Regions from separate parts of the Homo sapiens genome. Here region 1 is linked to region 2. The links come from fine-mapping of genetic effects on gene expression. A gene starts in region 2. The other region holds a variant in brackets. All regions are shown on one strand. Distances are from middle to middle. Region 1 overlaps NADK (NAD kinase). Region 2 holds the start of NADK (NAD kinase).

Region 1 (11,747 bases), 23 kb after region 2:
TTGCAGGGAGCTGTGATTATCAAAGTGCATTCCGCCTGGGCGACAGAGCAAGACTGTCTCCAGAGAAAAAAGTGAGCTCCCAGCCAGCCCTGAGAGTCGTATTCTGCACCTGGTAGACATCCTCATTGCCTCTTCCCCAGAGAAGCCTTTGCTTCTGGGACTGGTGCCTCAGCTCTCAGGCCTCTGTGCAGAACGGGCTCTCTTCCTCTGTGCAGAACGGGCTCTCTTCAGGGCCTCCTCCTTCACGGAGTCATGGATGCTTCACTTTCTGCAAGGGAGGACCATGCGGAAGGGCCGAGTGTTCCAGCGCGCAGGCTGCTGGGGACTGTTGACCAGAAAGCGCAATGCGGCCGTGTGATACGGGGGCGGCCACTGCATGGCCCTTTGCTGACAGGCACCGGTGCCATGGAGGCTGGGGGCGCACAGCAGGGACGGAGGCCCCAGCCCTGGGCTGTCACCGAAGTTCAGGTCCCAGGAGCCACGGGGGAGTCATCCGAGGAGCTGCTCTGCAAAGTGTGGGCCCCGCGGCAGCGTGCGTCCCAGGCAGGACGGGGGTTGGCCTTGCTGCTCCAGACGCTGACGGAGCCCCTTAGGATGGAAGTGACTCGCACTTGTGCTTTTGAGGCCCAGCCCTTTCAGTGCCACTGGTTCCCGGAGTGTCTGTGACCTGTCACTGCTGCCAAATGCCTGAGGCGGGGGGCCCGACCCCTGTTTGCTTTCCCTCATCCAGTCCATCTGCAGATTCTGTCACTTTGATCCCAAAATATCCAAGCAGCTCCCCTGCACTATTGCCCGGCTGCCCTCCGCTGTGTGGACTCCTGACCACTCGCCGCGGCCTCACCATCCCTTCCCTGCACAGCAGCCACGTGGGTGACCCAGAGTGCTCCACTGCCCTCCCGGCCCCGCCGTGGCTCTGTCCCGCCATCCTGTGCTTGCTGTGTCCCTGGCACCCCACCGGGCCTCTCCCCCGCTGCCTGGTGCCCTCCCTGCACTTCCTGGTCCTGGCAGAGCCACTCCTTTGTCACTCGCATCTCAGCTGCTGCCTTCACCAGCCGTCAGTCACTCGGGCCAGGGCGGGGTCACCGGACAGGTGCATGTTCTGCCTCAGCCCTCAGACCAGGGCGTACTCAGTGGTCCCCGAGCTGCCCGAGGCCAGACAGCCCCGCAGGAGGAAGCGGTGGGTTTGTGGGGCAGCCTTGAGGGGCATGCAGCTTTCTCGGCACCCCCATGGGAGCACGCCCCCTCTGGGCTCTGTGTCTCTGGGATCATAACCTCCCGCTTCCCATCCCCGCTGTGGAGGGGCAGGGCTTCCCATGCATCTGAACTTCCGTCTTCCCTGATAGTCCAGAGCAAGACCCTGTGGGGGCGCCTGGTGAGGAGGGCACCCGCTTCCTGTTTTGTTGTCCAGGGAATTGGTGGGCCTGTGTTGTGGAGGTGCGTGAGTGCCCGTGTGTCACAGTGTGCGTGGCCACCCATGTGTGAGACAGTCTCAGTAGGAGCTGGCCAGGCGGGCCAGGCTGTGGCCATGCTGGCTTCACGCCACCCCCTGCCCTCTCCGTGCAGTACCCACAGCCGTGTGTGCCTGCAAGCTTCACGCCACCCCCTGCCCTCTCCGTGCAGTACCCACAGCCGTGCGTGCCTGCAAGGGCTGGTGTCCTGCTTTGCAGGTGACCCAGGAAGAGGTCGAGGCGCTGGTTTGTGGTCACACACAGCGGTGGGTGCCTGGGCCGGTGTACGACGCCGCTGCTGGTGGCTCTGGCTGGGCTCAGCTGAGCCTCAGGGCTGGAATGGGTGTAGGCCAGGCCACTGGGTCAGTGGTGACTGTTGGCGGGGAGAGCAGGGGGAGCCGTGTGCAGGGCGGGGGCTTTGCTGGCTGACCAGGCCGGAGGACCGTGAGCCACCTGCACGCCCTTGGGCCGGAGCCAAGCAGAGTGACGCAGCGGGCTAGGAGGCAGGGAACGCCCTTCCACCTGACTGTGGCCTGAGGGTGCCTTCCCTGGGGCCCAGCCGGTTCCGCGGGCCAGAGCGGTGGCTGGCGCAGTGCTGGGGCGAGGCTGGAGGCTGGGTACTTGGCCAGGTCTGAGGCCACGGGAACAGAGGGCTTGGTCCCACCCGGCTCAGTTAGGAGCAGGGAGCTGAAGTGTGGCCTCTTTGCTGCTGAACTGAGGACTTTTTTTCAGAAGGGATTAGGCAGGAGGACCATGTGACCAATGAGGAAACTGTTTTGTTTTGTTTGATTTTTATAAGTGTAGGAAGCTCTTTTGACTTAGTTGCTTTTACAACAACTTTACCAAGTCTCATCACAATTGTGTTTTGCTTTGAGTTTTGAGTATGAAGAGCTTAGGCTTCTAGTGTGGGCGCACAGTCAGGACCATACCGATGGGGCGGCCGCGTGTTCGCCAAGCGTGGCCTGGATGCTGTGGACACACTGGCCGGCTCCCAGCAGGCAGGGGCTACCTCGCGAGCCACATGTGTGACCCGGCAGGTGCTGAGCTCATAGGGGATGGCATGAGTGACCCCACGCCTCCCAGTAATGCCTGCACAGGGTGAGTGCTGACCAGCTTCCGAAGGTCACAAGCGATGGGCTAAGGTCTGTGGCCCTGTGGCTGCCATCGGCGTCTGTGTTGTGGTTCTGGGGGTGTTAGTGGGACGGTCACACTCCTGGGGAAGTCACTGCTGGGAAGAGGCATGGCAGGCAGCAGCTTTCTCGATTGGGCAACTTGGAACTAGCTGGCTGGCGCGGTGGTATAAGAACTTGTCCTTTGGGGCTGAGGATAGGCGGTGAGCGCTGACGACGGTGGCCAGCCCCGCTGCGCCCTCCCTTGGCTTCTGGGAACAGGAGCAGGCTCCGTGGTGTGTGTTCCCGGTTCTGGGCTGGGATGTTTTCTGTGACTAACGTGGTAATGGGAATCCCACCGGGGTGGGCCCTGCCTGTGGAGAAACACCGGGCACAGTGGTCGGGGTCAGAGCCAGCAAAGCGCGGGTGGCTGTGTCAGGGCTGCCACGGACTTTTAAACCTGTGATTTTTACTGTGAGAGTGAGTGAGGTTAAAGTCCGTTCATGCAGGGAGGTAGTGAGCTGTGTGCAGGGGGGGAAGCGGGTCCTTGAGGGGTCCTGGGCTCCCGTGGGGCCAGAAACTGTGTGCAGAGGATCCTAGGGACAGAGTCACCATGTCAACTGGTTTGGGTTTTCGTGGGGGCCTGAGGAGGGCATCAAGCAAAGAGTGGCCCAGCCATGGGCTTTCGTGGTCATTTCTGCCCCACCAGCGTCACTGAGGAGCCAGGCAGGCAAGTGGCCGGGGGCTGGGAAGGGCTGTGGTGCGTGCACTTGGGTCAGCGTGGTGCCCGGGTGGGGGTTGTGGGCCTGAGCCTGCGTGTGATGGGCCAAGCAGGTGAGAGGTGGTCACTCCGGACCCTACTGACCCCTGACCCTGTCTCTGTGGCGCGACCCTAGGCCCTGTGAGCCCGTGGCCACCGAGCACGTTTCCCTGGGAGGTGAAAACACCTTTTTAAAGATTTTTTTTTTTATTTTCTAAGTCATACACCTTTTCCGCAAGAGGGAGATCGCAGCTGGTGTGAACTCTTTTCTCCTCCCCTAAAGGCACATTCAGGACCCCGCGAGCCAGCGGCTGACGTGGAACAAGTCCCCAAAGAGCGTCCTTGTCATCAAGAAGATGAGAGATGCCAGCCTACTGCAGCCGTTCAAGGAGCTCTGCACGCACCTCATGGAGGCACGCGGGGCAGGGGGGAAGGGGGCCTGGGGTGCACATGGAGTTGGGGGGGCCTCCATCCACATCACCGCCCCGTGAGACCATGGGAACCACCTCAAGTGCTGGGCAACGGCTGCTTGTCTGGAACTGGGGACTGAGTGGGGATCTGCCGGGTGTCTGGGTTTGTGTGTGCCGCCATGGCAAGCACCAGACTGGGTGACCAACAATGAGCTGGTGGGCTCGTGGCCCTGGAGGCCGGGAAGTCCGAGATCAAGGGGCCACATCTGACGTGGGCCTTCCTGCTGTGTCTTCTCTTCAGAAGAGCAGGCGTGGGGGTTGCGGCGCCCAGGAAAGCCACTCCTGAAATAACAGCCTTAGTCAATTCCTGAGAGGGAGCCCCCTCCGCCCAGTCATCTCTTAAAGGTCCTGCTTCCTCCTGGCGCGTTGGTGATGAAGTTTCAGCGTGAGCGTGGGGGGGCGGGCATGCAGGCCACGATGCCAGGTCTCTGACCACAGCGCCCGTGAGTCGGGAACCTCCCTGCAGGAGGGTGGGGTCTGCAGGTGGAATGAGCAGGTTGGCACTTTGCTTCCAGGAGAACATGATCGTGTATGTGGAAAAGAAAGTGCTAGAAGACCCTGCCATCGCCAGCGATGAAAGCTTTGGGGCAGTGAAGAAGAAATTCTGTACCTTTCGAGAAGGTGGGCTGTCAGCAGCTCTGTCCTTGGTTTCTCCAGCACAGTTCCCCGCCCCATTGGAAGCTTCTGGCACTGTTGCCCTTGTCATTGGTGTCTGCGCACTGCGCCACAGAGGGGCCACTGTGTGACAGCCTCTTCTTGGTTTTGCTTTGTGTTTCCTAGATTATGATGACATTTCCAATCAGATAGACTTCATCATCTGCCTGGGGGGAGACGGGACGCTGCTGTACGCTTCCTCGCTTTTCCAGGTGAAGCGCTGACATTTCCAGACCCACACCAGGTTCTAGTCTAGGTGCTGCGTAACGAGGGGCTCACAAGCATGGCTTCCATTGCTTTTCACCCCTTTATACGAGAGCAGTCACCTAGAGCGGCCAGCACTGAGGCCCATGGTGGCAGCCCGGTGGGGTGCGACGGTGGGGCCAGGGGCAGTGTGGACACAGTGCTACGGCTGGGGGTGGCCAGCGCCCGCCTGGGACAGCAGGGAGTGGCGCAGGGTGGTGGGTCCTGGGAAACGACCTCGCCTACTGGCCCATCCCCTCTGGGCCTCCCTTGAGCTCCTCTTCCTGGTTTCTCAGCAGCACAGCTCTCCCCTGGGGCTGTAGGGCCACGCTGTGTGGGGGACCCTGGCTCTGCCCTTGGCCCACTGCATGTTGGTGACACCGGAAATGCCCGCAGCCCGCCCTGCTTTTCTCCCCATCTCCCCATTAGCACCTGTGGGGCGCGAGGCTCCGACCCCAAGGCTGCCTCCCACCCGCCCTCGCCAGCTCCCCCAGCCCTCCGTGCCCAGGGGGCCGCTCAGCCCTGCCACCTTTGTTCCTCACCAGCTCCCCACACCAACCTTGGCCCTGGTGGCCCGGCCCACCCTGGCCTGCGACGTCCCCCTCCGCTTGTCCACATGGCCAGTCCCTCCTGCAGAGGGTCGGGGTGCTGTCCCCACAGAGCTGGGTCCCTCCTGAGGTGCTGCTGGAAAGCTGGGTGGTGCGGGGGTGCACGGCGTGGGCACTGAGTGACCTCTCCGTCGGCTCACAGGGCAGCGTCCCTCCGGTCATGGCCTTCCACCTGGGCTCCCTGGGCTTCCTGACCCCATTCAGCTTTGAGAACTTTCAGTCCCAAGTTACTCAGGTGATAGAGGGTGAGTTGGAATGTTCTGGAGCCCACAGGAGCTCTGATCATGGCGCTGCTGTCTCGCTTGCTTGCGGGGGGTTTATTTTCATTTAATGATGCATGGAGCAACATTTAAAGGTTTCAAGATTCAGGGATTTCTAAATCTTGAGTGGTTCAAACCTTTTACTGACACTGAGAAGTTTCAGCAGATCACAGGTTGAAGCTGCCATGTGTGTTGGGCAGAAGTGAGCTGATTCTCACTCTCAGAAGGCACAGAAGTGTCGGCCGGGCGCGGTGGCTCACGCCTGTCATCCCAGCACTGTGGGAGG[T/C]CGAGGCGGGCGGATCACGAGGTCAAGAGATGAGACCATCCTGGCCAACACGGTGAAACCCCGTCTCTACTAAAAATACAAAAATTAGCTGGGCGTGGTGGTGCGCACCCGTAGTTCCAGCTACTTGGGAGGCTGAGGCAGGAGAATCACTTGAACCTGGGAGGCAGAGGTTGCAGTGAGCCAAGATCACACCACTGCATTCCAGCCTGGGTGACAGAGTGAGACTCCATCTCAAAATAAAAAGAAAAAGGCACAGAAGTGTGTCAACTTGGGAGAAGAAAGAGCCCTCTGACTCCCACTGGCCTCCCTGGGGTGGGGCCCCTGACCCCACTGACTTCCCTGATGCATGCCCTCTGACTCCTGCTGGACCTCAGGGAACGCAGCTGTTGTTCTCCGGAGTCGGCTGAAGGTCAGGGTGGTGAAGGAGCTCCGGGGGAAGAAGACGGCCGTGCACAATGGGCTGGGTGAGAACGGCTCGCAGGCTGCAGGCCTGGACATGGATGTCGGGAAGCAGGCCATGCAGTACCAGGTGAGTGGAGGCGCCTCGGCCTCGGTGAGGGGCCCAGGGTGGGGCGACTTCGGTCCCAGGGATGAGGACCTTCCGGAGAGCCCGGCTGGGTGAGACGGAGGGTGTCTGCGAGCCGTGCGGCATCCCCCGCCCTGAGTGTGCAATGCTGTCGCCCCTCCAGGTCCTGAATGAGGTGGTGATTGACAGAGGCCCCTCCTCCTACCTGTCCAATGTGGATGTCTACCTGGACGGACACCTCATCACCACGGTGCAGGGCGACGGTAAGGCCCGCAGCACTGTCCTGGGGCCCTGAGCGTCCCTCGGGCGGGAGTGACGCCTGCGCCTGTCCCTGTCAGGAGTGATCGTGTCCACCCCGACGGGCAGCACGGCGTATGCGGCCGCGGCCGGGGCCTCCATGATCCACCCCAACGTGCCGGCCATCATGATCACGCCCATCTGCCCCCACTCGCTGTCCTTCCGGCCCATCGTGGTCCCCGCAGGGGTCGAGCTGAAGGTCAGAGCCAACGACACTCCTTTTCCGGTTTGTGAGTCATTTGACCCCGTGCAACACAAAGCCGGGACCTAGCACCCCGCTCTGCCATGCTGGCTCCAGCCTCAGACGCGGCCTCGTCATCCTAGGGCCATCCTGTGCCCCCTCAGATGCAAGCCTTCCCTTGCTGGTGCCCGAGTTCTGTCCATCAAGGTGCCCAGGGCCCGGGTCTGAGGGGCTTTCTGCCATTGTTGGTCTCTGGCGGTGCTGAGCTGGGCCGGTGCCTGTAGGACGTGCACTGCACCGTCCGCAAGGCAGGGTCAGAGCTGCCCAACCTTCGACCTCTGGCGAGCACTCAGGGGTGGGTGCCTAGAAGCGTCCTCCCCACAGCTGGGGGCCCACACCTCTCCCTGCTTGACCCTCAGATCATGCTGTCACCTGAAGCAAGGAACACAGCATGGGTGTCCTTTGATGGACGGAAGAGACAAGAGATCCGCCATGGAGACAGGTGTGGGCTGCATGCCGGGCTGGGCGCTGCCTGCCAACCTCCTCCCCGGGCCAGGCAGCGCCTGCCCTCTTGCGGTTGGCCTGTAGACACAGCTTGTCCCCTAGGGCACCACAGGGCCTGAGTCCCTGGGTCTTGCAGCATCACAGTCGGGGCACCCGTCCTGGGGGCAGCGGGTCGCATACGGTGGCACATGCAGGCCTGGCCCCAGCAGAGGCCTGAGGGTGTCCCCCCTGGCACTGCTGCCCACCCCCACCCACCTCCTGGGACCTCACCCCTGAGGGCCCTGGGGCAGAGTTTGTCAGTTCCCTGCACCGTCCCCTCCAGGACCTGGGATGGCTCTGTCCCAGCACCCATGGGGCACTGCTCAAGCCTGCCTCGGGGAGGGGCTGCCCGGCCCCACAGGAAAAGAGTCCCGGCCATTCCCAGGGAGGGAGGGAGGAAGGGTTCTTGGCCGGGGGTGGGCCTTTCTGGAAGCCCTGGCTCAGGCTGCTGCTCTCCCGTCCCAGCATCAGCATCACTACCTCATGCTACCCGCTCCCCTCCATCTGTGTGCGGGACCCCGTGAGCGACTGGTTTGAGAGCCTCGCCCAGTGCCTGCATTGGAACGTCCGGAAGAAGCAAGCCCACTTCGAGGAGGAGGAGGAGGAGGAGGAGGAGGGCTAGGTCAAGCCCCTATCCAGGCCCGAATCCTTCCGCTGCCCTCCAAGCGCCCTCTGGGGACAGACCAATCTGCGTGTGTCTGTGACCGCCTGTCTCAGTGGCACGGCCACTTCCTTTCTGTAGCTGGGTTAGAGCCTGGGTCTGCCTTTTGTCCAGATCAGCTGTTTTTTTAAAATGTCTGACTTTTTTTGCATTTCTAAAGAAGCGTGAGAAATGGGCTGGGAGTGCTTCTGTCCTGCTGACACCCCGCGGTGGGTCCCTGGAGCGCGGCCTCCAGCTGCCGCAATTTCCATGCCAGGATATTTTTCCGCAAATCAGTCGGTTGAAATTCAGAGGAGTCAGAATGACTCGACCTGTCCTTCAATGTTGATAATAAATGTCTCAGCCAAAAACCTTCCTTGAGCTGCCATGCTTTTCCCCTTGACCTGCACCTCTTCCCCTAAAACTTCTGCAGGGAAGCCCCTGGCGGAGGCGCCATTGAAAGCATGGTCTTGCCAGTGGCTGGCAAGGCGGTTTTGTTCTGCTCAGTTTCTGGAGAGGGTTGGATGCGTCCCCTGCCATCCAGCCCTCCCCGCTTGAGGCCAGCACTGAGTCTGGGACACTCAGCGGGAAGGGGGCTGGCATCGCCAGCGACCCACACATTCCTCACGTAGCTTCTGCTCCCAGGAAGGTAGTTTAAATCCTGTATATACTTTTTAGAGACTCTTTTAAACTTTCTGAAGTGCTGATGTACATACTTTCTCGTACACACTTTTGTGAAGATTTCAAGGGGAAGGGAGTCGTCTGCCATTCAATGTTTACATTTATGTTCTGCAAGACGCTGTCCTCAGGGACCATTAGGGGACCATTCTGTTCAGTGCGATCCTGATGGTCCGGGAGATGAGGGTTTCCGGGGCTAGTGATCGTGATCCCTTTTATTTGCAACTGTAATGAGAATTTTTCACACTAACACAGCGAGGGACTCAACACGCTGATTCTCCTCCTGCCTCTCCCGTGAGTCTCCAGCCTGCCCAGCACCGGCAGCTGTGGAGCACGTGGATGCTGCCTACCCCGGCGCCCGCGTCTTCCACGGGCACAGGTGTGTGGAGGCCGTGGTCGGACCCTGGTGTCCTGGTTACTGCTGCCCGGGTGTCTTTTTTTTGAGTAACTGCTCTCTGAGTTTTGCACACGAAGTTGCCCTCATCTGCTGGAGATCGATAAGGAAGGCACAAGACGTTCTCCTCTGCCCGTGAGGAGCTTCCCGCAGCCGCCTGGCCCAGCCTGGGCACGTTCTCCGAGGCATGTGTCTCCCTGCTCACCCTCGTCTGGGCACCTCAGCATCTGTGGACTTGAGCGTCCAAAAACCCTGAGTGTGATTCTGGGCAGCCGGCCTGGCTTGAAGTCCGCCATGACCCTGGGCACAGGGGAAGCCCAGCCGTGGGCTTAGGAGAGAGGGACCAGCGCCCAGCGTTAGGGCTGGAAGACGGCAGTGTTCAGAATTCCAGCCGCTCATCTGAACACAGAAGGTGTGAACTGACCTCTAAAGCAGCGTGAGATGGGAATGATCTAGAAAACTTTGGATTTTTGAAGTAAATTTTAATGTTTCATATTAATTTCTTGAAAATGTATTAAATGTCATTGAAAGCCTTATTACGCTTTTCAGATCCTTTCAATAAACAAGACTTGTAGAAAATAAGCTGGGTTAATAACAGCTTTCTTCTGACGCCGTGGAACCAACATAGAGGGGTCGGGCAGGGTCACCCCCATTAAATCCTAGCCCCAAAATGCCCATCCACCGAGTGTGGGGCCGGCAGGGCATCCTCCCCAAGGGGCTGGGGGTGCCGCTGCCTCTTCCGGGCAAGGGGGCAGTGCCCTGGCGGGGGTAGGGGTAGACAGAAGGGACTCAAACCCGAGGGGTGGTGTCGACTCGGGCAGGCTGTGTTGCTCCCGGAAGAGCCACTGAGACCAGGGGGAATTGAGTCCCTGCATTCCCGGGGCCAGCAGGGCTGGAAGAGCCCCTCCATCCGGGCTGCCTAACAGGGGCAGCCACAAGCCAGGTGAGGACCCGCTGGCCCCTGGGCCCAGCCTGGGCACCGATATCGGCCTCCCTCCCTCCACTGACGTGGTCCTGCGCCCCGCAACCCCCCCACCCCGCACCGTCCCTGTTGTCCTAACAAGGCCCAGATGAATGTGGCTCAGGGCTTTGCCGGCAGCCAGTCTGCACTACACGCGTGCAAGTCCAGGAGAGACCAAAACGACCACCCTGTGGACACCTGCGCCTCCAGCACCCTGCCCCGTTTTGGGGACGTGAAACCCTGGGCTGTGGGCCCCGCCCTACCGACCTGGAGCGCCTCTGCCTCCCCGGCCTGGAAGAGGCTGTGGGTCAAGCCTAACCTTCTCGGCTTTGGGGAGCACAGAGTCCCCAAGACATCCTCGGGGGCTGCCGGGCTCAGGCTCTGGGGCATGGAAACCTTTTCGAGCCTGAAACGGCGGCATCCACGGTCCCTGCCGGGCCAGTGCCAGCCTGCACCCTGGGCACCTCTGTGCTGGGCCCGGCACCCCCACCCTGCCTCCCACAGCCAGGGTGTCTCCTCAGGTCAGGTCCAAAGGGGCTGCAGCCAGGCCCAAAGACCCAGCCCAAGTCCCATGGCTCCTGCGGGGTCTGGGTGAGGCCTGTCCTGCTGGGAGCCCAGGAGGCTGCGACCCTGCCTGGAGCTGGAAGTCTGGTTGGGGGGTGGTAGCAGGGTGGGGCGGGTACAGGGTAGAGGAGCCGGCCGGAGGAGCCCAGGGAAGGCTGGCGGTGCTGGGGATGTAGGGGACAGCAGGAGCTGGTACATCACCACGTGGTTCAGCTGCTTCCAGCACATCCCGCCCCAGAAGGATCTCAGCCAGGGCATGGGCTGCCTTCAGGGTCTGGCAACACCAAGGAGCCAAGGCAGGTGGTAAACCGAGGCCACAACCTCCTTAGGAGCCTCCACAACCAGGGCGCACAGCTGAAAGAGGAAGGAGGCCCCTGCGGAGAGCAGGGTGGGCAGGAGTGGGTGGCCAGGACAGGTGGTGCCCAGTGACCGGCGGTGGGGACCCGGGAGCCACAGAGGAGCTGGCTCAGCCACCCCTGTGCAGGAGGCACCTGGGGCCTGTACTCAGGCCTCACCCAGGGCTGCCCCACGCCCACATCCTGCTGACAAGCCCCCAGGACCAGCATCCCCACCCAGCTGCTCTGTGCAGAGGGGACAGGAGGCCAGACAAAAAGATGGACAAACACCCACGTAGATTCACACACACACAAACAGACACACCACACAGAAAAATATGCATGGACGCCACTGAGACACGCTAACACCACACACTCAGACACAAACACACCACACACACAGACTCACACAGATACACACAGAGAAAAATACACATGGACGCCACTGAGACACATACACTCAGAGACAGGCAGTGCGCTCTGGGCAACAGGAAGCTTCCTCCAAACCAGTGAAGGGCCCAGGAAAGCATGAGCGGCCCTGACGTGTATGGAGGGTCCAAAGGCTGCGGGAACTTGCCCGTGAGTGACCTTGGCCTGGAGAACTCCCCGGCCTCAGTTTCCCCACCTGCTGATGAGGACAAACTGCAGGGGCATGAGCGGCTGCTGCTCCCCTACTTCTGCGCAGGTGGCCGAGTGGCCTGCAGGCTGGGTCTCCAGGTGGGGACGCTTCCTTCTTCCTCCCCACCCATGGGGCCTTGGCACAGACCCTTCTCTGGGGCCTCAGTTCACA
Region 2 (11,747 bases):
CTCGCTCTTGCCCAGGCTGGAGTGCAGTGGCGCGATCTCGGCTCACTGCAAGCTCTGCCTCCTGGGTTCACGCCATTCTCCTGGCTCAACCTTCCGAGTAGCTGGGTCTACAGGTGCCCACCACCACACCCGGCTAATTTTTGTATTTTTAGTAGAGACGGGGTTTCACCATCTTAGCCAGGATGGTCTCCATCTCCTGACCTTGTCATCCGCCCTCCTCAGCCTCCCAAAGTGCTGGGATTACAGGCCGAGCCACCGCACCCAGCCAAACTTTTTCCTAGTAAGTGAAGAAGGCTCTCAGCAGAAAGTACCTGTAGGCCCCCTCCTCCCCTGGGCACCAGAGAACCCAGCAGCCCCTCCTCTAGGCTGGCAGTCCCTGGCCGGAGAGGCTCCCATAGGGCACTTGGGATTCACGGAGCAGGGCCCAGCCGCCCTGCTCCAGGCAAGGTGCTGGGTGTGTTTCTGACGCCACCAAGGGTGCCCATCTGCCAGCACTGCAAGTGACACTATGGCGTTGTCTCCCTGGTGGGGTGACCTGGTGCTGTTTTAGGCTGCTGAAGTGGGTGTGATTGGCAGGCTGAACGGGGTGGGCTCGCCTGGCTTCGTCATCCCCCACTTTTCCCTGAAATAAATCAGTTCTTCATAGACATGCAAGTTCTTCACAAGCCCTAACCCTGCCAGCTGTCTTACAAAAACCCCACTTAAAATCACTAGAGAGTTGAACTTGTCTTGGAGGCGTCAAAAGAAAAAAAAAATTAAAAATTAAATGCAGAGAGTACCTGAGGCTCTTTCCTGGCTGGCAGTTCCTGGGAGGGAGGGGCTCCAGCAGCCGGGAGGCAGGGTGCCGGCCTGCAGTGGCCTATCTTGGTCCCTGCCCAGAGTAAATAAAGGCCGAGCATCTCAGCACGGCTGCCACACCCCCGACTCCACTTCCTCCCTTTGGGGATTCCTGTTGGCTTCTGTGTCCTAGCCTGGCACCCCGCAGACTGAGGGAGCTGGCATGTGGGACCTGGGACCCTCTGGTGCCCCTTCCCCTTGGCTTTGGCCTGGAAGAGCCAGAGCTGAGGGGGACCCCTCCCTGGGGCGGCCTGCCTGTCCCTTGGCGGGCATGGAGGCCACTGCCCCACTTTCTTAGCAAAACAGGAAATGAAAACGGGCGCCAACAACGTGCACTTGGACAGCGGCACTGACTAAGGCAGTGTGGAAAGAGGAGGATAATTCCACACTGGCTGAGTGAACTGCAATCATTTTCAAACTGTAGGCACAGAAATCTAGTTTGTAGATTGCATTAGCCTGGCCTATGCAGGAGCAGCGCCCTTTGTCGCCAGCAGCTCCGCGGTGTGGGGGCCCCTGGCGCGCTTCCTGTGTCCGGGTCACCTGGCTCCGCCCCGCTTGCGCGGGCGCACCTGTCGCAGGTGGACACAGGCAGTGGAGTGACCTGCAGCTCGCTCCGGCTGTGGGCTGTTCCTGCAGGGCCTCGGACCTCCTTTGACCAAGCGGCGCGGGGTCGCCCCTGTGCTCCATGTCCCAGGGATGGAGGTTCCCCACCTCAATTTTACTCTAGCACGTGGCACGCACGTCCACACTTGAGCAGGACAAGGTTTCCGTTCTGTCCCCTCCGTGTCACGCACCTAGCAGAGGCTGGCCCTCAGCAGGATGCGTGGGGAGGCGCGCTCTGCCCACGCGAAACGGGGACACTTCAGCGGCCTGGCGCGGCCCCCCGCTCCCCCCCGAGCCGGACCTGGGAGCCTGAGTGACTGGGGCCAATAGAAGGGCCGGCCGGGAACCGAGCGCTCCCGGGAAAGGCCGCCTCGGCCCCTCCCACTACTCTCTGGCCTCGCCCTGTCCCCTACCCCCACCCCCCAGCTCCCTTTCCTCGCTGGGTGACCTTGAGCAAGTTACTTGGCCTCTCTGTGCCTCTGGCCCCCGCGTGAAAAATGTGGACAATAAACGTACCAGGCTGTGGCCGGGCGCTGTGGCTCACGCCTGTAATCCCAGCACTTTGGGAGGCCGAGGTGGATGGATTACCTGAGATCAGGAGTTCAAGACCAGCCTGGCCAACATGATGAAACCCCGTCTCTGCTAAAAATACAAAAAATGAGCCGGGTTCAGTGGTGTGCGCCTGTAACTCCAGCTCTGGAGGCTGAGGCAGGAGAATGGCTTGAACCCGGGAGGCGGAGCTTGCAGTGAGCTGAGATCATGCCACTACACTCCAGCCTGAGCTACAGAGCGAGACTTCGTCTTATACTAGGCTGCTTGGTAAGGATCTTGTGAGGACACAGGGAGTCCCAGTCCTGCCAGGTGGTTACTGTTGATGATCCCCGCCCACTCTAGGCTCTCACCACTTCAGGGTCCTGGTCCTTGCTGCTGCCTCTGCCTGAGAGAGAAACACTTGTCCCTGGGTACCTTGGTCAAAACTGTACCCCAACCCCTGCCTGCCCCCACCAATTCTGCTTCTTGCCCGTCTGCCCCACTAGAAGGTGAACACCTGATGGACTTTGGTTTCCACTGTTGAATCCTCAGTATGCCCTGCACATGGCTGGCATCCTGGGAAAGAGGTTGCCCCTCGCCCCAAACCAGGCCAAACAGAAGACTGTCATGTGAGCAGATCCAGACACTGGCCCCTGCAGACGCCCCTATCCTGGCTTTCAGCCTGGGCAGGGCCTGTGCCGGGTGCTGGCTGGAGGCTGGATGAGATGACCAGATAGCCTGCCATACTGATGTCCTTCACTGGGAGCCTCAGTCCTTCCCAGTCATCCTTTCCCCAGGCTCCAGGCCACTTACCCTTGTGGGTTCTGGGCAGACTTCGTTCACCCAGTTTACTGGAGCCAGGCCACCTGAAGCCAACTTCCCTCTCTCCTCAGCCTCCCCAGGAGCAACCTGTACCCCAGTGCACCCCATCCTGCTCCATCCCTCATGGCCTCCGTTCCCCCTTCTCCCTCCACCCTCCCCATCCCTGCTGACCCCCAGAAGAGGATGGGTCCAGGTTTTGGGGGTTCTGAAGTAAACAACATGGGAGCCATCCTTAAAGAATACAAAAAACAATGCGAAATTATGTGAAGAGTCCACTGCCACCTTGAGCAATGGCAGCCCTGGGGCTGAGGAAGGTCAGGGCAGGGGATGCCACCCACTGCTGCCCCATCCCTGGGGCCTGGTCAGGCAGGAGGGGGCCTTTCCTGACCCCCAATCCCTTGAAGGCAGAGCCTCTTCCTGTGCACCATCTGGCAGAAGCCCCCATGATAGCCCTGGACCCTTCTGTTCCTGCTGCGGGAACATCTCTTCCCTTTGGTCTCAGCCCAAGCAAAGCTGCCTCTTGGACCATTCTGGGTGCCCTAAGGAGCCTTCCCAGCTTTGGTCTTAGTTATTGCTGGCCAGGCCTGGGGTGAGGTGTGGGTGTGAGATCTTGGCCCCTGAATCTTCAAGGTCATATCCGGGGCCTGCCCTGAGAAATTGCACAACCTGTCAGCTGAAGGAAACCACAGCCCTGGTTTTGTTTTCTCATCTCTGAAACAGGGAAGCTCTCCTGCAGGCAGTGCCCAGGCCCAGGGTAGACAAAGGGTTTTCATGCCACAGACGGGGCAGCTGCTGGAGCTCCCTACACAGCGGGACACGCGAAGGGCACCTGCTGTGTGACCTGGGGCCCACGACAGTCACTGGTTGCCTCTGCAGAAGCAGTTGACTGCCTCCACTCTAGAAGATTCTACTGAGGCCTGGCTCAGTGCCTGGCTTGTGGGTGCGCCATCTAGATCAAGCATTATTATGCTAATGATCATATGCAAAAACTCAGCTCACGCATTATTATGTTAATGATCTTATCCGCCCCCTCTCCCCCCGCCAAAGAAAAAGAACTGGGCAGCTCAAGGCCGCTTCTGTGGGTGTGGCTGGTGGTCACTTTGAAACAGTTGGGTTTGCAAAATAACCCCGGGAGAAGTTACAGAGCTTAAGAAATCCCCCAAGTTCTCATGATCCTTGCTTCCCTTTCCAGTCACCCTTGGTGCCCTGTACTTCACTGTGGTCCTGAACTGAAGAGCTGTGTTTTTCAGGAAGACTTGGCCAGGCCGTGTTCCGTGTCTCTGGATTCAAGTCCCAGGAGTCCTGACCAGAGAGCAGGTATGCGGGTGTGGGGAAGGGCTGCAGAGGACTCAGGTCCACACCGACCCTGGGCCAGGTGATCACACAGAAAGTATAGACAGGGACTGAACCTCAGAAAACAATGGCTGGGCCAGGTGCAGTGGCTTACGCCTATAATCCTAGTACTTTGGGAGGCCGAGGCGGGTGAAGTTTGAGACCCAGCCTGGGCAAAATGGTAAAACCTCATCTCTACACACACACACACACACACACACAAATATATATATATATGAATGAAGTAGTCGAGTGTGGCGGGACCTACTTGTAGTCCCAACTACTAGGGAAGCTGAAGTGGAAGGATCGCTTGCACCTGAGAGGTCAAGGCTGCAGTGAGCCGTGAGCCCGCCACTGGACTCCGGCCTGGGGGACGAATGAGACACTATCTCAGAAAAACAAAACAATGTCTGGCACCTGGGGGACCAGCAGGTTAGAGCAGCTGGTCGTGCATTGCCAGTTTACCTGACAGTGACTCGAGAGCTGAGAACTGGGTATAGGGCACATTATTGGGATATTTGAGGCCTGAAGGCGCTGATGAGCAGCCACCAGTTCAGCAAGTGCGGGCTGGGTGGGACCCGCAGTTCCAACAAACACTACAAAGTCCGCTCCTGTGGCTTTGGCCTCCTCCCCCAACTCCCCGAGTCCTCCAGCCTGTGGGGTGCGCAAAACACGGCTCCCTGGTCCCCCTAGAGGTGCCCCAGGCCACCGGGTCCTCCCTCCACTGCCAGCCTTGGGATCCCAAGCGTAGACCTCTGAGGACGTTCGTGGGCGTGCAAGGCGCACCTGGCCGCTAGAGGTGGGCGTGAGGCCGATCGCGGTTCCCCCAGGCGCAGGGCCGCCCTCCCAGCCCCGACGGACAGCCCCGAGGGAGCGCAGCGCTGCCGCAGCTGCTCTAAGTTTCGGTTCCCAAATCCGGCTCGGCCCACACCGTGTCACAGCCCGGTAATTAGGGAAGCGGCGGCGGGCGGGGCCAGCTCTCGCGGGGCACCTGCACTCCCCTGAGCCGGCCCACGTGGTCCGGGAGGTCCCGCCCGCGGTGGCGGTGAGTTGGGGGCGGGACGCCGGGCTGGGATCACAATGTCGGGGGCGCCTAGGCGTAGACGTGGCGGGCGGACCCGGGGGCGCCCTCCGGACGCGGCAGGTGAGTGGGGACGGGAGCCGGGGGCCGCCCTCCTCGGGGCGCCGACCCCCGCCTACCCGAGTCGCGGACGCCCGCCCCTGTCCCCGCTGCCCGCCTCCACTCCCTGGTCACTGCTCTCCACCGCGATTCGCCCCTCTTCCCCACCGCCCGCCTCTTTCCCGCCACGCCCGCCGCCTCCCGCCCGCGCGGGGTGTCCCGGCGCCGGTGGGACCCGGCAGACGCGCGGGACGCCCCACGTGCGCGGCAGCGCGCATGCGTGGCGGGTGCGCCTGCGCAGTGGGCGGGCGCGGCGCATTGCTGCTCGGCGGCGCCGGCGCCGGGGTCCGGGCGGCCATGGGGCAACAGGCGGCCAGGGCGCCAAGGGCCAGGTAGCGACGGCTGGCGGCGGCGCGGCGGCGGGGCCTGCGGGCTCGGTCCGGCATGTAGACGCCCCCGCAGGCGCCCGCGGCAGCGAACGGTGAGTGAGCAGACCCGGCCTGCCGTCCGCCTGGGGTCGCCCGCTGCCTGGGGTCATCGCTGCCCGCGAGCGCGCGGCCAGGCGGGGAGACACCAGGCCGGCCCTGCCCATCTGGCCTGCTGAGGAGGCCGTGGAAGTGCTGACGGGCCACCGCTCCGTCCCGAATGGGGCACCAGCACGGCCCAGGGCGAGGCTCGGCCTTGGGGACGGGTCTGAGGGAGGCCGCTGTCCGGCCTGGCTCTCCCGGGCGGGGAAGGTGGGGCCGTCCAGCCCGGACCGCGCTTGTCAGTCGCCTCTGCTTGGGCGGCCAGGTCCTCGGTGTCCGGCCTTCCGTGGGTGGTTTCAGCAAGCAGGAGGGGTCTTTGACTCGTGAAAGCTTAGAGGGGCCCAAACCTAGTGGGAAAGTATGAATAAAAGATTCTATACAGCAGTATTGGCATGGAATTCTCTAAAAACACATCTCTGATTTAGTGCCCAGTACTTGCCAGAAAATTCCAATAGTCTATGGTGATGTTCCTACAGGCGGCTGCCATCCAGTAGGTCAGATGTCAGCACCGGCCTTGAGCTCTAGGTCGTCGTTTTTTTTCTTAATTGTGGGAACAGGGCGTGCCCAGCTCCGAAGGCCTGGTGGAGTTTTCCTTCCCAGGCCAAGGACCACCCCCACCCTCCCATCCCTCCTCCCCAAGCAATGAGATTCCTTTTGGCTTCGATTCCGAGTAACAAGTTATTTTTCCTTTCTTGTTTTGGAACACACTAAGTTTTACATTCAAAAGTTCATTATTCTTGGCTCTTGATGGGAATACATTTCAAAACTCTTCTCTTCTTGTGTTCCATGTCTCTCTGACAGCCTTAGTTGGCCTGAAACTGACATGTTTGCCTTAATAAGTTTTTTTTTCCTCCTGATGTCATCTTGTCTAAGAAGCTAGTTACTTTAACACCTTGTTAGATAATTCCCTTCAAGTACTTATTCCCCTGAACATTGTCCTCTCAAGCCTCTGGAAATTTCCTGTCCCCTTGGAACTTCTCTGTAAGGCCTGTTTGCTCTCAGCAGTGACTTCACTGGGACTTTTGCAGCCACTTTATGGTGTTAGCACGCTGATTCCAAGCTACTTGAGGAATCACAGGTGCCACCGCAGTACCCAACAAAATAGCTTCATCATTTGGAGGTGTCCTCTCGAGATGTTTCTGTGTGTATATGTGTGTGTATGTTAGAAACAGGGCCTCACTCTGTCCTCCAGGCGTGTTTATGGTGGCATGATTATAGCTCACTGTAACCTCAAATTCCTGGGCTCAATTGATCCTCCCACCTCAGCCTCCTGAGTAGCTGGGATTACAGGCCTGCACCACCACACCTAGCTGATTTATAAAATTTTTTGTAGAGATAGAGTCTCACTGTGTTGTCCAGGCTAGTCTCAACCTCCTGGCCTCAAGAGATCCTCCTGCCTCCACTTCCCAAAGTGCTGATCTTACAGACGTAAGCCACTTTGACCAGTCTTTTTTTTTTTTTTTTTTTTTTAAGACAGAGTCTAGCTCTGTTGCCCAGGCTGGAGTGCAGTGGCACAATCTCGGCTCACTGCAACCTCCACCTCCCGGGTTCAAGTGATTTTCCTGCCTCAGCCTCCTGAGTAGCTGGGATTACAGGCGCCCACCACCACGCTCAGCTAATTTTTGTATTTTTAGTAGAGACGGGTTTCACTGTGTTGGCCAGGCTTGTCTCGAACTCCTGACCTCGTGATCAGCCCACCTTGGCCTCCCAAAGTGCTGGGATTACAGGTGTGAGCCACCACAGCTTGCCTCACTTGGACCAGTCTTTTTGTTTGTTTGTTTCATTTGAACTTGGAGGTGGGTTTATGTTGTTTCAGTTGGCAGCCTGCTGTTTGGTTCCAAAACAGCATTTTCTTCTTGAAACAACTGCTGTCAGCAGTTAGATTTCCAGGCTAGCACAAAAACCTGTTTGACTCATAAATCCTTGTAGTGAGGGTGTCCCAGAAAGTTGGCCAAGTCAAGAGCAGTTCTTGTGGAGTGGAGGCGGTGAACAAATAGGGGGAAAGTGGCGCTCGTGATGAAAACGGAAAACAATAGTTGATTTTATTGAGCTTCACGCTTGAGGAAATGTAGGTCTCACTTGGAAAATTAAGAGGCAGGTGGGTGTTTGCGGGACTCGACGGCCTTGCATCTGGATTACCTCCAGTCTGCAGGTGTGGTAGGATGACAGCAAGAGGGAGTGTTGAGCACACAAGCCCAGCACTTGGGGGGAGGCTGTGTCATGGCAGGAAGGTACAGGGCCTCCTCCAGCAGCTCCACTTTCTAGTCCGTATATACCTGTTGACAGTCACCGCCCAGCTTCAGCCGTTCTGGACAAGTGGGTGTCAGTAATGCTTTAGCTTGTAACCCCAGGATTTCATTTCTACTCTCTGTGCTGGTGGCTTATCATTTGCAATCTTTCCTGGCCCACAATTGCAAAGGTCCTAGCATTCATGCATGGGAATGGGGAAGTGAATAAAATGTGTGTGTGTGCTTCAGACAGATGGTGAAAAGTGTTCAGAGAAAAAGCGAAATTGAGGCAGATGGGATGTGAGGATGCCACGCACACTTTGTGCAACTGAAGAGGGAGGTGATGCCTGGCCTTCCCATTCAGAACTGCCCAGACCCCTGTTTTCTTCATCTGCCCCTAAGTAGGTGGAGCCACATCTAAAGAAAGCCCCCTTCAGACCTGTAATCTGCTTAGGTTTAATGAGGTCACAGGGTGAAGCCCTGTGGTCACATGGCTGTAGCACTTTCCAGAAAGTCTTTCTCAGTTTGTATACTGCCAGTGTGCATGCCAGCACTGGGCATTATTTACCGGGGTGAGATGAGATGGGTAATTTAGTGGGCAGTAAGTTTTTTCCCACTCAGGGTTGAGGTTGAATGTTTCCCCATTTCTGTCACTAAATAAATTTTCCTTTTTCATTTAGTCTTGCAACAAATATTGATTGAGTTCTTACATGGGAACGAACTCGTGTATTATGTTTGTATTTGTGTGTGTGTGACTTTTGTTCATGTTCTTTGCACATTTATTTATTGGCATCTTAATGTTTTCCTTGCTACTTTGTATAAGTTCGTTATGAATATTTTCTTATTGTGCTCTAGTATTTTTTTCTAATAAAACTTCCTAATACAGAGGATTTTTTTTTTTTCTTTGAGGCGGAGTCTCACTCTGTCCCCCAGGCTGGAGGGCAGTGGCGTGATCTCAGCTCACTGCAACCTCTGCCGCCTGGGTTCAAGCGATTCTCCTGCCTCGGCCTCCTGAGTAGCTGGGATGACAGGCGCCTGCCACCGCGCCCAGCTAATTTTTTTTGTATTTTTAGTAGAGACGGAGTTTCACCATCTTGGCCAGGCTGGTGTTGAACTCCTGATGTCGTGATCTGCCCGCCTCGGCCTCCCAAAATGCTGGGATTACAGTCGTGAGCCACCATGCCCGCCCTACAAAGGTTTTTTAAAATTAGATTCATGCTATGAGGAATTTGAATGCACTTTGGTGCAGCTAGCATTGTGTGTCCTTTTAAAGCAGTTAATATATCAAACAAATGAATTAAGTGTCAGTCCTGACTCACCCTTGTCAAAAAATACAGTGGTGACCGCGCACGGTGGCCACGCCTGCAATCCCAGCACTGTGGGAGGCCGAGGCACAATGGTGGCCGCGCGCAGTGGCCACGCCCGTAATCCCAGCACTGTGGGAGGCCGAGGCATAATGGTGGCCGTGCGCGGTGGCGACGCCTGCAATCCCAGCACTTTGGGAGGCCAAGGCGGGCGGATCATCTGAGGTTGAGAGTTTGAGACCAGCCTGACCAACATGGAGAAACCCCTCCATGTTGGAGAATTAAGAGGCAGGTCTCCACTAAAAATACAAAATTAGCTGGGCGTGGTGGCGCACACCTGTAGTCCCAGCTACTTGGGAAGCTGAGGCAGGAGAATTGCTTGAACCTGGGAGGCAGAGTTTGCGGTGAGCCGAGATCGCGCCACTGCACTCCAGCCTGGACAACATCAGCGAAGCTCCATCTCAAAAAAACAAAAAATACACTGGTTGTGGTATTGGAGATACTTGTTAAATATATATATATGTGTGTGTGTGTGTGTATATATATACACACACACACATACATAGGTGAAGATAATTGTTTAAAGTTGGTTTTAATATTTAATATTATTTTATAAATTAGTTTACTGCTTAGTCATCAAATTGATCTTCGCAAATAAATATGAACAGAGCTTCTAGGCTGGGTGCAGTGGCTCATGCCTGTAATCCCAATGCTTTGGGAGGTCAACACAGGAGGGCCACCAGAGCCCAGGAGTTCAAGGTCAGCCCGTTCAAGGTAGCGAGACCCTGTCTCTACAAAAAATTTAAAAATTAGCTGGACATAGTGGCTCATGCCTGTAGTCTCAGCTACATGGGAGGATCCCTTAAGCCTGGGAGATTGAGGCTGCAGTAAGCTGTAATTGCACCACTGCACTCCAGCTTAGGTGACAGAGCAAGACCCTACCTCTCAGTCTCTCAATATCTCTATTTCTCTCTCTCTCTCACACACACACACACACACACACACACACACACACACACACACACACACACACAAAATAGAGCTTCTAGGTAATGTAGCAGTAATAATACATTTTTTTTAACATTTTGTGATTTTGATTTGTTTATTTTTTATTAATGTTTTTGTAGAGACGGGGTCTTGCTGTGTTGCCCAGGCTGGTCTCCAATTCCTGGCTTCAGGTGATTCCCCTGCTTCGGCCTCCCAAAGTGCTGGGATTACAAGTGTGAGCCACTGTGTCTGACCTTTATTAACTGTTTATTTTGAAATAATTGGCTGGGTGCGGTGGCTCACACCTGTAATCCCAGCACTTTGGGAGGCCGAGGCGGGCGGATCACCTGAGGTCAGGAGTTTGAGGACCAACCTGGTCAACATGGTGAAACCCCATCTCTACTTAAAATACAAAAATTAGCCGGGTGTGGCGGCGGGCACCTGTAATCCCAGCTACTCAGGAGGCTGAGGCAGGAGAATTGCTTGAACCCTGGAGGCAGATGTTGCAGTGAGCCAAGATTGCGCCATTGCACTCCAACATGGGGGACAAGAGCGAGACTTCGTCTGGGGAAAAAAAAAATAATCATAGACTAATTCATAGGAAGTTGTAAAAATAGTACAGAGAGACCCCTGTGCCCTTCACCAGCTCCCTCTGTGTTAACATCTTTTTTTTTTTTTTTTTGAGATGGAGTTTGGCTCTTGTTGCCCAGGCTGGAGTGCAATGGCGTGATCTCAGCTCACCGCAACCTCCCCCTCCCAGGTTCAAGTGATTCTCCTGCCTCAGCCTCCCGAGTGGCTGGGATTACAGGCATGCGCCACCACGCCGGGCTGATTTTTTGTATTTTTAGTAGAAACGCGGTTTCTGCATGTTGGTCAGGCTGGTCTCAAACTCCTGACCTCAGGTGATCCGCCCGCCTTGGCCTCCGAAAGTGCTGGGATTACAGGCATGAGCCACCATGCCCGGCCCTTGTGTTAACATCTTACACCTCCATACACCTCCATAGTACAATATCAAAACCAGGGAATTGAAATACTGCTAACTAAACTATAGACCTTATTCAGGTTTCACCAGTTTTACATGTGTGTATGGCTCTATGCAGTGTTACCTCTTAAATTAATTATATAACCACTAGCAAGACACAGAACTGGTCTTGAACTCCTGGACTCAAGCGATCCTCCCGCCTCGGCCTCCCAAAGTGCTGGGATTACAGGCACAAGCCACCACACCCAACTGTATTTTAATTTTCTTAACAGTGTTTTGGCTAGGCACAGTGGCTCATGCCTGTAATCCAAGCACATTATGATGCTGAGGCAGAGAGATTGCTTGAGCCCAGGAGTTCGAGGTCAGCCTGGGCAACATGGCAAAACCTCATCTCTACAAAAAAATACAAAAATTAGTCAGGCATGGTGGTGCATGCTTGTAGTCCCTGGTACTCAGGAGGCTGAGGTGGGAAGA

The links. PIP is the estimated chance that this variant, and not a neighbour inherited with it, causes the effect.
Region 1: its variant is fine-mapped to the expression of NADK in whole blood (TOPMed, PIP 0.98).

What each region holds. Positions count from the first base shown.
Region 1 is chr1:1,749,164-1,760,910 of GRCh38, reverse strand. It overlaps NADK (NAD kinase), which reads left to right. Exons shown (of 12, transcript NM_023018.5): 4 at 3,601-3,730; 5 at 4,303-4,408; 6 at 4,568-4,653; 7 at 5,435-5,537; 8 at 6,213-6,367; 9 at 6,528-6,627; 10 at 6,703-6,860; 11 at 7,262-7,344; 12 at 7,851-9,679. The coding sequence ends at 8,007. It overlaps LOC112268218 (a long non-coding RNA gene), which reads right to left. Exons shown (of 2, transcript XR_002958243.2): 2 at 9,169-10,996. Among named protein-coding and RNA genes, the nearest start is that of NADK, 23 kb to the left of the region's middle. RefSeq lists enhancers at 1-917, 7,258-7,787. The variant T/C (reference allele first, on the strand shown) is at 5,839.
Region 2 is chr1:1,772,268-1,784,014 of GRCh38, reverse strand. NADK (NAD kinase) reads left to right here and starts at 5,545. Exons shown (of 12, transcript NM_023018.5): 1 at 5,545-5,726. RefSeq lists enhancers at 3,340-3,439, 3,450-3,519, 3,530-3,589, 3,600-3,769, 9,406-9,907 and 1 more and silencers at 951-1,245, 4,830-6,029.